Linked DNA regions of Homo sapiens. The protein of the gene in region 1 interacts with the protein of each later gene in a pairwise test. Each region holds a gene or a part of one and is shown in the gene's direction. Other genes may lie near its edges. The genes, in order: CZIB and CCS.

Region 1 (8,271 bases):
GACATCAAAAAAAGTCACTCTAAACTTTAAAGAAGTGACGGGACCTCAGGTGATAAAAGAGTCTTTTGTTTTCTGAGGCAAAAAAAACTTTAGTAAAGTATTCTTGGCCGGGTGCAATGGCTCACCCTGTAATCCCAGTACTTTGGGAGTCTGAGGTGGGTGGATCACCTGAGGTCAGGAGTTCGAGACCATCCTGGCCAACCTGGTGAAACCTCATCTGTACTAAAAATAAAAAATTAGTCGACTGTGGTGGCGCACGCCTGTAATCCCAACTACTCGAGAGGCGGAGGCAGGAGAATCGCTCGAACCCAGGAGTTGGAGGTTGCCGTGAGCCGAGATTTCGCCACTGCACTCAAGCCTGGGCGACAAAAGCAAAACTCCATCTCAAAAAATAAAAAATAAAAAGAGACCGGGCATGGTGGCTCACGCCTGTAATCCCAGCACTTTGGGAGGCCGAGGCAGGCGGATCACCTGAGGTCAGGAGTTTGAGACCAGCCTGACCAACATGGAGAAACCCCATCTCTACTAAAAATACAAAATTAGCCTGGCATGGTGGTGCATGCCTGTAATCTCAGCTACTCGAGAGGCTGAGACAGGAGAATCACTTGAATCTGGGAGGCAGAGGTTGCGGTGAGCCGAGATCATGCCATTGCACTCCAGCCTGGGCAACAAGAATGAAACTCCATCTCAAAAAAAAAAAAAAAAAACAAAAGAAAAAAACAGGGTTTGGCTGGTCTCAAACTCCTGTGCTGAAGCCGTCGTCCTACCTCAGCCTCCCAAAGTGCTAGAATTACAGGTGTGAGCCACTGTGCCCAGCCTATCTGTCTGTCTGTCTGTCTGTCTGTCTGTCTATCTATCTATATATATATATATATTTTTTTTTTTTTTTTTTTTTGAGACAGGGTCTTGCCCTGTCACCCAGGCTGGAGTTTAGTGGTGTGATCTTGGCTGATTGCAACCTCCGCCTCCCAGGCTCAAGCGATCCTCCCATCTCAGGCTCCCGAAAAGCTGGGACCATAGGCATATGCCACCATGCCTGGCTAATTTTTTGTATTTTTAGTAGAGATGTGGTTTCACCATGTTGCCCCTGAACTCCTGAGCTCAAGCGATCCACCTGCCTCGGCCTCCCAAAGTGCTGGGATTATGGGCATAAGCCACCGTGCCTGGCCCCTATTTATATCTTATACTGTCTATGTTTTGAAAAGTTATTATTTTTGATAGGTTCATCTTTTAGTCTTGCTACTCAATATATGAGTAGTTTACACACAATTAGTGTTAAAATCTTTTGCATTTGTCTGTGTAGTTACCATTCCCAATGAGTTTTGTGCCGTCAGACGATTTCTCATTGCTTAACATCCTTTTCTTTCAGACTGAAAAACACTCTTTAGCATTTCTTGAAGGAAAGGTCTGGTGTGTTGACAAAATCCCTCAGCTTTTGTTTGTCTAGGAAATCTTTATTTTTCCTTCATGTTTAAAGGACATTTTTGCTGGATATACTATTCTAGGATAAATGTTTTTTTTCTTCAGTACTTTAAATGTCATGCCACTCTCCTGGCCTGTAAGCTTTCCACAGAGAAGCCTGCTGCCAGACCCATTGGAGCTTCTTTGTGTGTTATTTGTTTCTTTTTTCTTGCTGCTTTTAGGATCCTTTCTTTATCTTTGATCTTTGGGAGTCTGATTATTAAATGACATGAGGTAGTCTTATTTGGGTTAAATCTGCTTGGTATTCTATAACTTTCTTGTACTTGAATATTTATATATTTCTCTAGGTTTGGAAAGTTCCGTTATTCTTCCTTTGAATAAACTTTCTATCCTAATTTCTCTCTACCTTCTCTTTAAGGCCAATAACTCTTAGATTTGCCCATTTGTGGCCATTGTCTAGATATTGTAGGCATACTTCATCCTTTTTTGTTATTTTTTCTTTCAATTCTTCTGTGTATTTTCAAACAGCCTGCCTTCAAGCTCACTAATTCTTTCTTCTGCTTGATCAGTTCTCATGTTTAGAGACCCTGGTGCATTCTTTGGTGTATCAGTTGAATTTATCAGCTCCAGAATTTCTATTTAATTTTTAAAATTATTTCCATCTCTTTGTCAAATTTATCTGGCAGGATTCTGAGTTCCTTTTTCCATCTCTTTGTTAAGTTTATCTGGCAGGATTCTGAGTTCCTTCTCTGTGCTATCTTGAATTTCACTGAGCTTTCTCAGTGACAGTGAATTCTCTGAAAGGTCACATATCTCTGTCACTCTGGGATTGGTCACTGGTGCCTTATTTAGTTCATTTGATTAGGTCATGTTTTCTTGGATGGTATTGATGTTTGTGACTGTTGGTCAATGCAGAGCATTGAATAATTAGGTATTTATCATAATTTTCACAGTTTGGGCTTATTTGTACTCATCCTTCTTCAGAAGGCTTTTCCAAGTACTCAAAGGGAAATGAGTGTTGTGATGTAAATATTTGGTCACTGCAGCTGTAACTGCATTAGGGGGCACCCCAAACCCAGCGATGCTGTGACTCTTGTAGACTCAGAGGTACTGCCTTGATGGTCTTGGGTAAGATCCGAGAGAATTCCCTGGATTACCAGGCAGAGTCTCTTGTTATCTTCCCTTACTTTCTCCCAAATAAATGGAGTCTCTCTCTCCATGCTGAGCTGCCTGGAGTTGGGAGAGGAGTGACACAAGCACCCCTGTGGCCACCACTGCTGGAACTGTGCTGTGTCAAACCTGAAGCCAGCACAGTAGTGGGTCTTGCCCAAGGCCCATGGTGACTATTGCCTGGTTATTGCTGATGTTTATTCAAAGCCCAAAGGCTCTTTAGTCAGCAGGTGGTGAATCCAGCCAGGCTTGTGTCTTACCCTTTGGGGTGGCAGGTTCCCTTCTGGCCCAGGGTGGGTTTAGAAATGCTGTCCAGGAGCTAGGGCATGGAGTCCGGGCTTTAGAAACCTACTTGGTGCTTTATTTTACTGTGGCTGAGCTGGTACCCAAGTTGCAAGACCAACTCCTTTTTAACTCTTTCCTCTCTTTTCCTTAAGCAGAAGGAGTCTCTCCCTGTGGCAACCATTACTGGGAAGGCACTGGGTCACACCTGAAGGCAGCACAGTACTGGGCCTCACCCAGTACTGTGGCTATTACAAATGTTTATTCAAGGCCCAACAGCTCTTTAGTCAGCAGGTGATGAATCCTGCCAGGACTGGGTCCTTTCCTTCAAAGCAGCGGGTTCCCTTCTGGCCCATGGTAGCTCTAGAAATATCTGGGAGATAGAGCCTGGCAAGGGGGCTTCGGGACTCTGCGTGGTGTTTTATTCTACTGTGGCTGGGATGGTATCCAAGCTGTAAGACAAAGTCCTCTTTACTTTCCCCTCTCCTTTCCTCTAAGGGAAAGGAGTCTCTCCTGGAGCCGTGAGCTGTGCTGCCTGGGGTTGGGGGACTGGTGACATAAACACTCCTTTGGCTCCCCAACTGGTATCTCACTAGGCTGTGTGCACCCCAAGTCCACGGGCTCTGAGCTCAGCACAGCACCAGGACTTGCCCAGGAATTGCAGTCTTTGTGGCCTAGACTGCCTTTCGAATTTATTTAGGACCCTGAAGCACTTTAGCCAGTGGTGGTGGGGCTCGCCAGAACCTGACCACTGGGATGGATGATTCCCCTCTGGCTAGGGTTTCTCTAAGTGCTTCCTCTGTGGGCACTAGCTGAATTCTGCCCTGAGTTGCTTTCCACTGTGACAGGGCAAAACTCAGTTCCAATGCAAAGTCCCATAAGCACACAGATTCTCTCTCTATGCCAGGCAGCCAGGTGCTGCCAGAGGATGAGGGAGGGGTGGTGGTAGCAATTCAAGACTGTCTTTCCTACCCTCTTCATTGCCTTGTTCCTTTTTTTTTCTTCTTTTATGAGATAGAGTCTCACTCTGTCACCCAGGCTAGAGTGCAATGGCATGATCTCAGCTCACTACAACCTCCACCTCCCGGGTTCAAACAATTCTCCTGCCTTAGCCTCCGGAGTAGCTGGGACTACAGGTGTGCACTGCCATACTCGGCTGATTTTTGTATTTTTAGTAGAGACAGGGTTTCACTATGTTGGCCAGCTAGGTCTCAAACTCCTGACCTCAGGTGGTCTGCCCGCCTCAGCCTCCCAAAGCACTGGGATTACAGGTGTGAGCCACCGCACCCAGCCATTGCCTTATATCTTGATGTGACGTTACAACCAGCTACTGTGATTGCTACCTGAGTTTTGGTTCTCATGAAGGTGCTTTCTTGTGTGGATAGTTGTTCAGTTTGGTGTTCCTGCCAGGGAAGAGGAGGAGGAGGATCACTGGAGGGTTCTATTTGGCTATCTTGCCCCACCTCCTAGAAGAGTCTTGAATGTGCTGTTCCTTTTACCGTTAATCTCCACAGCTCCTGCATGGTCTCAGATGTAGCCTGGACAGGAGGCCAGGTAAAATAAAGTTCAATAAACGTTATGAGAGAAGGATAAGCCAGGTGGGCTCCCAAAAAAGAGCCAGCTGAAGGGGAATGTCCAGTCGCAAGGACCACAGTGAGAAGGATGTGGACACAGGGCAAACTCTGGAGAAGGGCCTAGAAACCAGGTCTCTTGGGTGAAACAGGAAAGGGCAGTTTGAAGAAAGGCATCATCCCCAAATCTGATAAACCAATACATTCTACTTTTTAAAGCGTATTGGTTTATCTTTATTTGGCAGTCTTGGAACTCTTCCTTTTGTAGCTTTTCCCCTGGGCAGAGGGAGCTGACGTGATCTGAGAAGTTCCAGGGCAGGCAGAGTAGTGAAGAGCCTGGAAAGAACTGAGGGTCAGGAACTGTCCTGTTCGCTTAAAGCAGGCACAAAATTGGCGTTCAGTAACTGTCTGTGGCACCACCGAATCCTGGAGTCAGGCTTCCGCTGGCCTGAGCACAGGTTGCTCGCGGACCTGGCTGACCTCCACTGGCCCCAGATCCCCAGATGCGAAAAGCCCAGTGGGCCAGGCGAGCAGCGGCGCGCAGAAGTCCCTGCCCCGCGGCCCGGCCCCGGCCCCGCCCTACTGAGGGTGCGCAGACGGCACCCGCCTTTTACGACGCGCCGGAAAGCAACGGCAAGGGCCGCAGCCAGCACCGGGCGGAGAGGGCTACCATGGGGGTGAGGGGAGGCCGCCCGCCGCGGGGACACGGAGGGGAGGTGGCGAGGGTCTGGGAGGCAACAGCTCGCGCCAGGAGGAGATGAAGCGAGTGGGTGCGCGCTGAAGGAGCAGGAGGCAGAAGGAGTGTCTCCCTGTGGCACCCACGGCTGGGAATGCGGGAGGGTCGGGCAGGCGTGGGGCTGCGCAGGCACGGCTGACGCAGTCGCTCTGGCCCTCCCCCTCAGAAAATCGCGCTGCAACTCAAAGCCACGCTGGAGAACATCACCAACCTCCGGCCCGTGGGCGAGGACTTCCGGTGGTACCTGAAGGTGCGGCCGGGGCGGGGCCCGGGGAGAGGAGGCCCGTCCTGATCTCAGTGCTGAACCGGAGCCTTCTCTCCGGCAGTATGAGAAAATATTTAACCAGGCACATTAAGTGTTCGGGGTTTTCCTAGTTAGAATTTTACGTTTGCTTTCTATTAAAGTGTATTGGTTTATCTCTAATTGGCAGTCTTGGAAAGCTTCATTTTGTAGTTCTTCCCTGTGTTAAATATTTCGTGGTCTGTAAATGGACACTAAACGAAATGCTACTTGAAGGGACGCTTGTGATTATTTAATAAGGTGAATAGTTCGCCTTTCGTTTATTGATTTGGTTTTCTTTATTGTGAAATAGTTTAATTTTGTGCGTAATCCACCCTTCCTTAGCCCTCCCACACTGGTAAAGCTGGTACCCTAGTGGCATGGTCTACAGAGGCCTCCCCTTCCCCAGCAGTTCGAGGCTCTTCACTCTTCCAGATCCCAGAGCTTCTGCTCTGTTTTACTCCTGGTCAAAAATCCCAGCATCCTTCTGTACCTCTCAAAAGCCCTGTTTTTCGGGAAGCTGCCTCCGGACTACTTTTGTTTCCCAGGATTTTGAAGCCTGAATACCAGGGCTTACTTGGGAGAATCTGTTCTTTGGCTTGAAGAAGCGGAATCGAGTGAAGGAGACAGAAAAATAGAGTAACAATAGAGTGATAAGTGCTTATACCAGTGACATACAGGGCCTGTGGGAACATAAAGCTAACCAAGCAGAGTGGGTCGGGGGCCTGCTGAGGCCATTTCTCTTTTTTTTTCTTAATTGACACAGAATTGTACATATTTATGGGGTATATAGTGATGTTCCGATAAATGTAATGTATTGTGATCAGATCAAGGTAGTTAGCATATTCACCTCAAACGTGTATCATTTCTTTGTGTTGGGAGCATTTAATATCCTAGCTATTTGAAACTATATATTATTGTCAGCTATAGTCATCCTACAGTGCTATAGAACACTAGAACTTATTCCTCCCATATAGCTGTAATTTTGTATCTTCTAACAAATCTCTCCATATTCCCCCCCCTCACCTCCGCTGAAACCATTTCTGCACCACAGGTGCCTTGAATCCCCGGCCACACTGAGCACTTCATAGAGGAGGGTGGGCACGCCGGCATAGGAAACAGCCTTACCTATCCTTTGCCCAGAGATAGTTCTAGTTTTGTCCTTGTTGGGGCAGGTGTTAGGGATGAAGTGAGATTGCCATCAAGAAGGTAGATCATGAGCCTGCCCACCTCCCACTGTTCTTACCCTTTCCTTGGTGTCTGTGCAGCAGAGCCAGCTGCTTTACTAACATTCTTTTTCCCCAAAGATGAAATGTGGCAACTGTGGTGAGATTTCGGACAAGTGGCAGTACATCCGGCTGATGGTAACTGTTCCCCGCCCAACCCCCAACATAAACACTCACAAACACACATACACTTCTGGGCAGGGATTTGGGGAAACTGGCCTTCATCTCTCCAGTTCTTTGCTCCCTGCTTTTTGTGGTTTGGGAGGGTAGGTGTCAGTGTGATCAGCACTGGATTCAATAGGCATCTTTGAGGTATGAGGCAGAGTTCAAAATCAAGGGGAAGCCCTTTTTTTATTTTCCTCAGGAAGCCTTCCCAGGAGTCTTGTCCTAGTAAGTTACCCTTTCTGGGTCTTGGTCTCTTTAAGTGGACAATAAATGGTGGGCTCGATCTCCTCAGGACTGTACATCTAATTCATATGTGACTGAAAGTTCTGTTTGCTTTTTGCCAGGACAGTGTGGCACTGAAGGGGGGCCGTGGCAGTGCTTCCATGGTCCAGAAGTGCAAGCTGTGTGCAAGAGAAAATTCCATCGGTAGGTCAGGCTGTGCGTACTGAGTTCTGCCAGGGTGGCCCACAGCTTCCTGGCACCAGGCTGAAAGTAGACTCATGTTACCTGAGGGTGGAGTCAGGCCTAAGATGCCGACACCTGTACAGCGTGATCTTTTTCAGGGCCACATGTGGGCACCTGGCTGGGGCGAGGGTATGGACTCAAGTCAACTTTGTGTTCTCTTTTCTATTTCAGAGATTTTAAGCAGCACCATCAAGCCTTACAATGTAAGTTTGCTGCTGTAGTGGCAGGGATGGTGGGCTTAAATCCTAACTGGAGTTAGTAGGTCTGGGTTCTAGAGTCATGCCTGCATCAGAGTGACCTGCCATAGGACATTCACTCATGAACTTAGTTCTTCTTTGACTCAGTCATTTATCCACTGTACACTGAGTGCTTGGTATATTGCCTCTTGCAGTGCCTTCTTATGAGGGCTGGGCTGTGAGAGCTCAGGGGACCTCTGACACAACCTAGCTGTTCAGTTTGCATCACTGAGAGCACTTGCCTTGTCTTCATTTTAGGGGACTAGCAAGCTTTCTCTGAAACCATGGGTGGGGTAGTCGTTTGGTGCATCCCATCCTTTATATCATCAGTGTTAACAAGTTAGCCCAAAGGTGAGGGAGGGTGTGCTTTGGATCTGTTTGTTTAAAGAAAGCCAGTTATATGTATTCACCTATTCCTTATTTGGTATTTATTTAAAGTATCTTGAGTTGTGCCAAATTCTTGGCTTTGTCCTGAAGTTAAAGAGAAATTAAATGAGGACTCGCCTTCACGTACATAATAATCTAGTGGAAAATACAAAAAACAAGAATCGAACTAGGGCCCTAACAGAGAAGTGCCTTACCAGTGCCAGAGATGTGGTCAGTGTGCAGGAAATTACTTTACAGTGAATGACAGGATGAGACTGAATGTAGGGCATGGCACTTGTGGTCCCTAAGCCCATAGGTCAGGTAGGCATGAATTTCCTGGCCACCTGCCCCC
Region 2 (3,621 bases), on another chromosome or scaffold:
TTTCATAGACTGCACTAGAAGGATTGTTCTGAAGCCTGGAGTAACCAGGCCATGCCCCTGCCTGAAACTTGTCTTGGCTCCCAGTGCCTGAGAGTACAAGCTGGGCCTAGCTTCTTGATGTGGACATTCAATACCCCACTCCCCCTGCCTATTGCCCCTGCCTGTGTGCTGAGGAAACAGCCTGGAAAGGCTGCCTTTCCCTGAACTCCTGCTGGGTCATGCCTCCAGCCACACTGTCCAGGCTGCCCCCTGCCTTGAGGCCGCTCCTCCAGCCGGGCACAGTGGCTCACGCCTGCAACCCTAGCACTTTGGGAGGCCGAGGCAGACGGATCACTTGAGTTCAGGAGTTCGAGACCAGGCTGGCCAATATGGTGAAACCCTGTCTCTACTAAAAATACAAAAATTAGGCCAGGTGCAATGGCTCATGCCTGTAATCCCAGCACTTTGGGAGGCTGAGGCGGATGGGTCACTTGAGGTCAGGAGTTTGAGATCAGCTTGACCAACATGGTGAAACCCTGTCTCTATTAAAAATACAAAAGTTGGGCCGGGCACAGTGGCTCATGCCTGTAATCCCAGCACTTTGGGAGGCCGAGGCGGGCAGATCACAAGGTCAGGAGATCGAGACCATCCTGGTTAACATTGTGAAACCCCGTCTCTACTAAAAATACAAAAAATTAGCCAGGCGTGGTGGCGGGCGCCTGTAGTCCCAGCTACTTGGGAGGTTGAGGCAGGAGAATAGCGTGAACCTGGGAGGCGGAGCTTGCAGTGAGCCGAGGTCGCGCCACTGCACTCCAGCCTGGGCGACAGAGCAAGACTCCATCTCAACAAAACAAAACAAAACAAAACAAAACAAAAGTTGGCCAGGTATGGTGGCGTGCTCTGTAGTCACAGCTACTCGGGAAGCTGAGACAGGAGAATTGCTTGAACCTGGGGGGTGGGGAGGTTGCAGTGAGCCCAGATCGCACCACTGCACTCCAGCCTGGGCAACAGAGTGAGACTCTGTCTCAATAAATAAATAAATAAATAAATAAATTAATTAATTAAAAGAAATACAAAAACTAGCCAGGCGTAGTGGCGCGTGCCTGTAATCTCAGCTACTTAGGAGGCTGAGGCAGGAGAATTGCTTGAACCCGGGAAGCAGAGACTGCAGTGAGCCGAGATCACACCATTGCATTCCAGCCTGGGCATTGCAATGAGACTTTGTATCAAAACAAAACAAAACAAGCAAAAAAAACCGCTCTTCAGGGCTCTGTATCCCCTCCCCCTTCTTGATCTTTCTACTGTTCAAATCTCCAACGCAGGGCGTAAAAAAAAGTACCAGGTGCAGGCAGCAGATATCCCTCTGGAAAACGAGATAAAGCAGAACTGCCACTTCTTCCTGCCCATCAGTTGGTGGCACAGTGAGATGCCTGGTTACTCAGCAGCAAGGTCATGGGAGCCCACCTGTACTGGCACAGGCACTTGTTTCTGCCCAAAATGTCAGGTTGGGGACAATTTATTTGCACAGATGTGGGTTTCTGTGGCTCACTAGTAAGGCCTTGTCACCCCAAAACACACCAACTGTTGTATTCACCCTGTGTGTCATCACCCCTAGTCTGTTCTGTATCTGGGCCCCCACCATGTTCTGAGTCCCTTGAGGATGGTGACCTGCATACTCCCTGCCATGTTGGGTAGTGTGTCTGACCTAGGAGGTGCTCATAGGTGTGTTATGACAATTTTTATTACCGTCAAAGGAGAAGGAGGGCAGAGCCAGCTTCGAGGGGCTAGGACAGGCCCTTTGCCCCTTGCATTTCCTTCTGTTCCTGGAATCTGGGAGTCAGGGAAATGACACTGGCTGCCTATGATGGTCAGGGAAGCCAAGCTTGGCCAACTTAAGCCTATAGGAATTGAAGACAGCCAAGGGCTCACAGAGCCATCAGGAGGCTGCACAACTGAGCTAACTGGAGGCTGAGAAGCAGAGCTGGGCAATTGCCTCGCCGGAAAAACAGTCTGATCCAATGGGAATGACTGCACAGGCAGGGGAAACTTCCACTGGCTCTTTTCAGCCCACTGTCATCCTGCCCAGGATTTCAGTTCCAGGGAGGGAGTGTTCAGATGGTCCGGGACTTCCTGGACCACTTTCCACTTCCAGACAGGGCCAAGAGGACCTTGCCTGCCCAGTCCTTGGGGAGCTCAGATCCTACGAGACTGGTACCCACAGGAGGAAATGGGTACTTTAGGGAAGCAGGAAGAGGCGTCGGAATCAGGAAATCAGAAGATAGCAGCTTGGCACCACGTGGCACACATCCCCTATACACACACTGGATCTCATTCCAGCACCGCGGAGACCTGGGCAATGTCCGTGCTGATGCTGACGGCCGCGCCATCTTCAGAATGGAGGATGAGCAGCTGAAGGTAAGGTGGAAAAGAAGGTGGGCACCCTTCCTAACAGGGTCCATCATCTGAAGCTGTCGTCTCCCCTCAAAGGTGTGGGATGTGATTGGCCGCAGCCTGATTATTGATGAGGGAGAAGATGACCTGGGCCGGGGAGGCCATCCCTTATCCAAGATCACAGGGAACTCCGGGGAGAGGTGAGTGGTGTCGGCCCCTGTAGGAGGCTGTGCTCTGCGGATGGTGCATGAGGAACCCAGGGGTGGGGGCCAAACAGGTACCCACCCCTGACCACACATTCTTCTGCAGGTTGGCCTGTGGCATCATTGCACGCTCCGCTGGCCTTTTCCAGAACCCCAAGCAGATCTGCTCTTGCGATGGCCTCACCATCTGGGAGGAGCGAGGCCGGCCCATCGCTGGCAAGGGCCGAAAGGAGTCAGCGCAGCCCCCTGCCCACCTTTGAGCAGGACCTCACCTTGGCTCTGTTGCTGTCCTCCAGGGCGAGCACTTTCCACTTCCAGAGGGGGCCAGAGGGACTTTGCCTGCCCAGTCTTTGGAGAGCTCAGTACAGGGCAGGAGCTGCTGTGGTGTTCCCTTGGCAAATGAAAGTTTTATTTTCGTTTGGGACTTGGTGTTTTGTGCTTGTCTCCATGCCCCTTATGGGCTTGGTGAACATAGCTCTGCTTCTTTCCTTTGTATCAGGGCCACCCCTTAGCATTGGAGCCAAACAAACCTGAATTCAAACCTACACACACACTGAAGTCCCCATCTTCCTCCTTGGAGCCATAATGAAGAGCCACTACAGTCAAATTTCTGTTTGTGGCCTCCCCCAACCCCTCACTATGGCTGATTGGAACCAAAATGGACACCTGACCCATGGTGGCCCATGCTTTCCCTGAGAAATCAGGGCAGATCCAGCTTTAGTTTTTTCCTGTGGTTGGACCCATAACATGGGAATATGGGAAGTTTTGGTGGCCCTCTTCTCCCTGCCTTATTGACTGAGCATCAGAAAAAGCCAGTCGGCTAAGGAGGAAAAATGAGGCAGGGAGAATCTAAGAGTTGCTGGAGAATCCCAGTCACTCTGGAGTCCCCTCTCTGAGCCTTTCGTGAGGCCAGCTGCCTCCTGCCTGGGATTGAAGAGATGCTCCCGAATCCTCCTAATGCATCCCCCTGTTAAAATAATCTGGCTTGAGGCTGGGCACGGTAGCTCACACCTGTAATCCCAGCACTTCGGAAGGCCAAGGCGGGAGG

What was found.
Region 2: the proteins of CZIB (region 1) and CCS interact in binary tests that used the Homo sapiens proteins (3 or more experiments, as listed by UniProt).

Annotation. Positions count from the first base shown.
Region 1 is NC_000001.11:53,217,421-53,225,691, reverse strand, and holds the start of CZIB (CXXC motif containing zinc binding protein), read left to right. Parts: upstream 1-5,057; 5' UTR 5,058-5,116; coding exon 5,117-5,122; exon of another isoform or gene 5,123-5,332; intron 5,333-5,347; coding exon 5,348-5,431; exon of another isoform or gene 5,432-5,891; intron 5,892-6,768; coding exon 6,769-6,825; intron 6,826-7,196; coding exon 7,197-7,278; intron 7,279-7,488; coding exon 7,489-7,520; intron 7,521-8,271.
Region 2 is NC_000011.10:66,603,023-66,606,643, forward strand, and holds the end of CCS (copper chaperone for superoxide dismutase), read left to right. Parts: intron 1-2,316; coding exon 2,317-2,394; intron 2,395-2,466; coding exon 2,467-2,570; intron 2,571-2,679; coding exon 2,680-2,833; 3' UTR 2,834-2,997; downstream 2,998-3,621. UniProt on the Homo sapiens protein: Delivers copper to copper zinc superoxide dismutase (SOD1).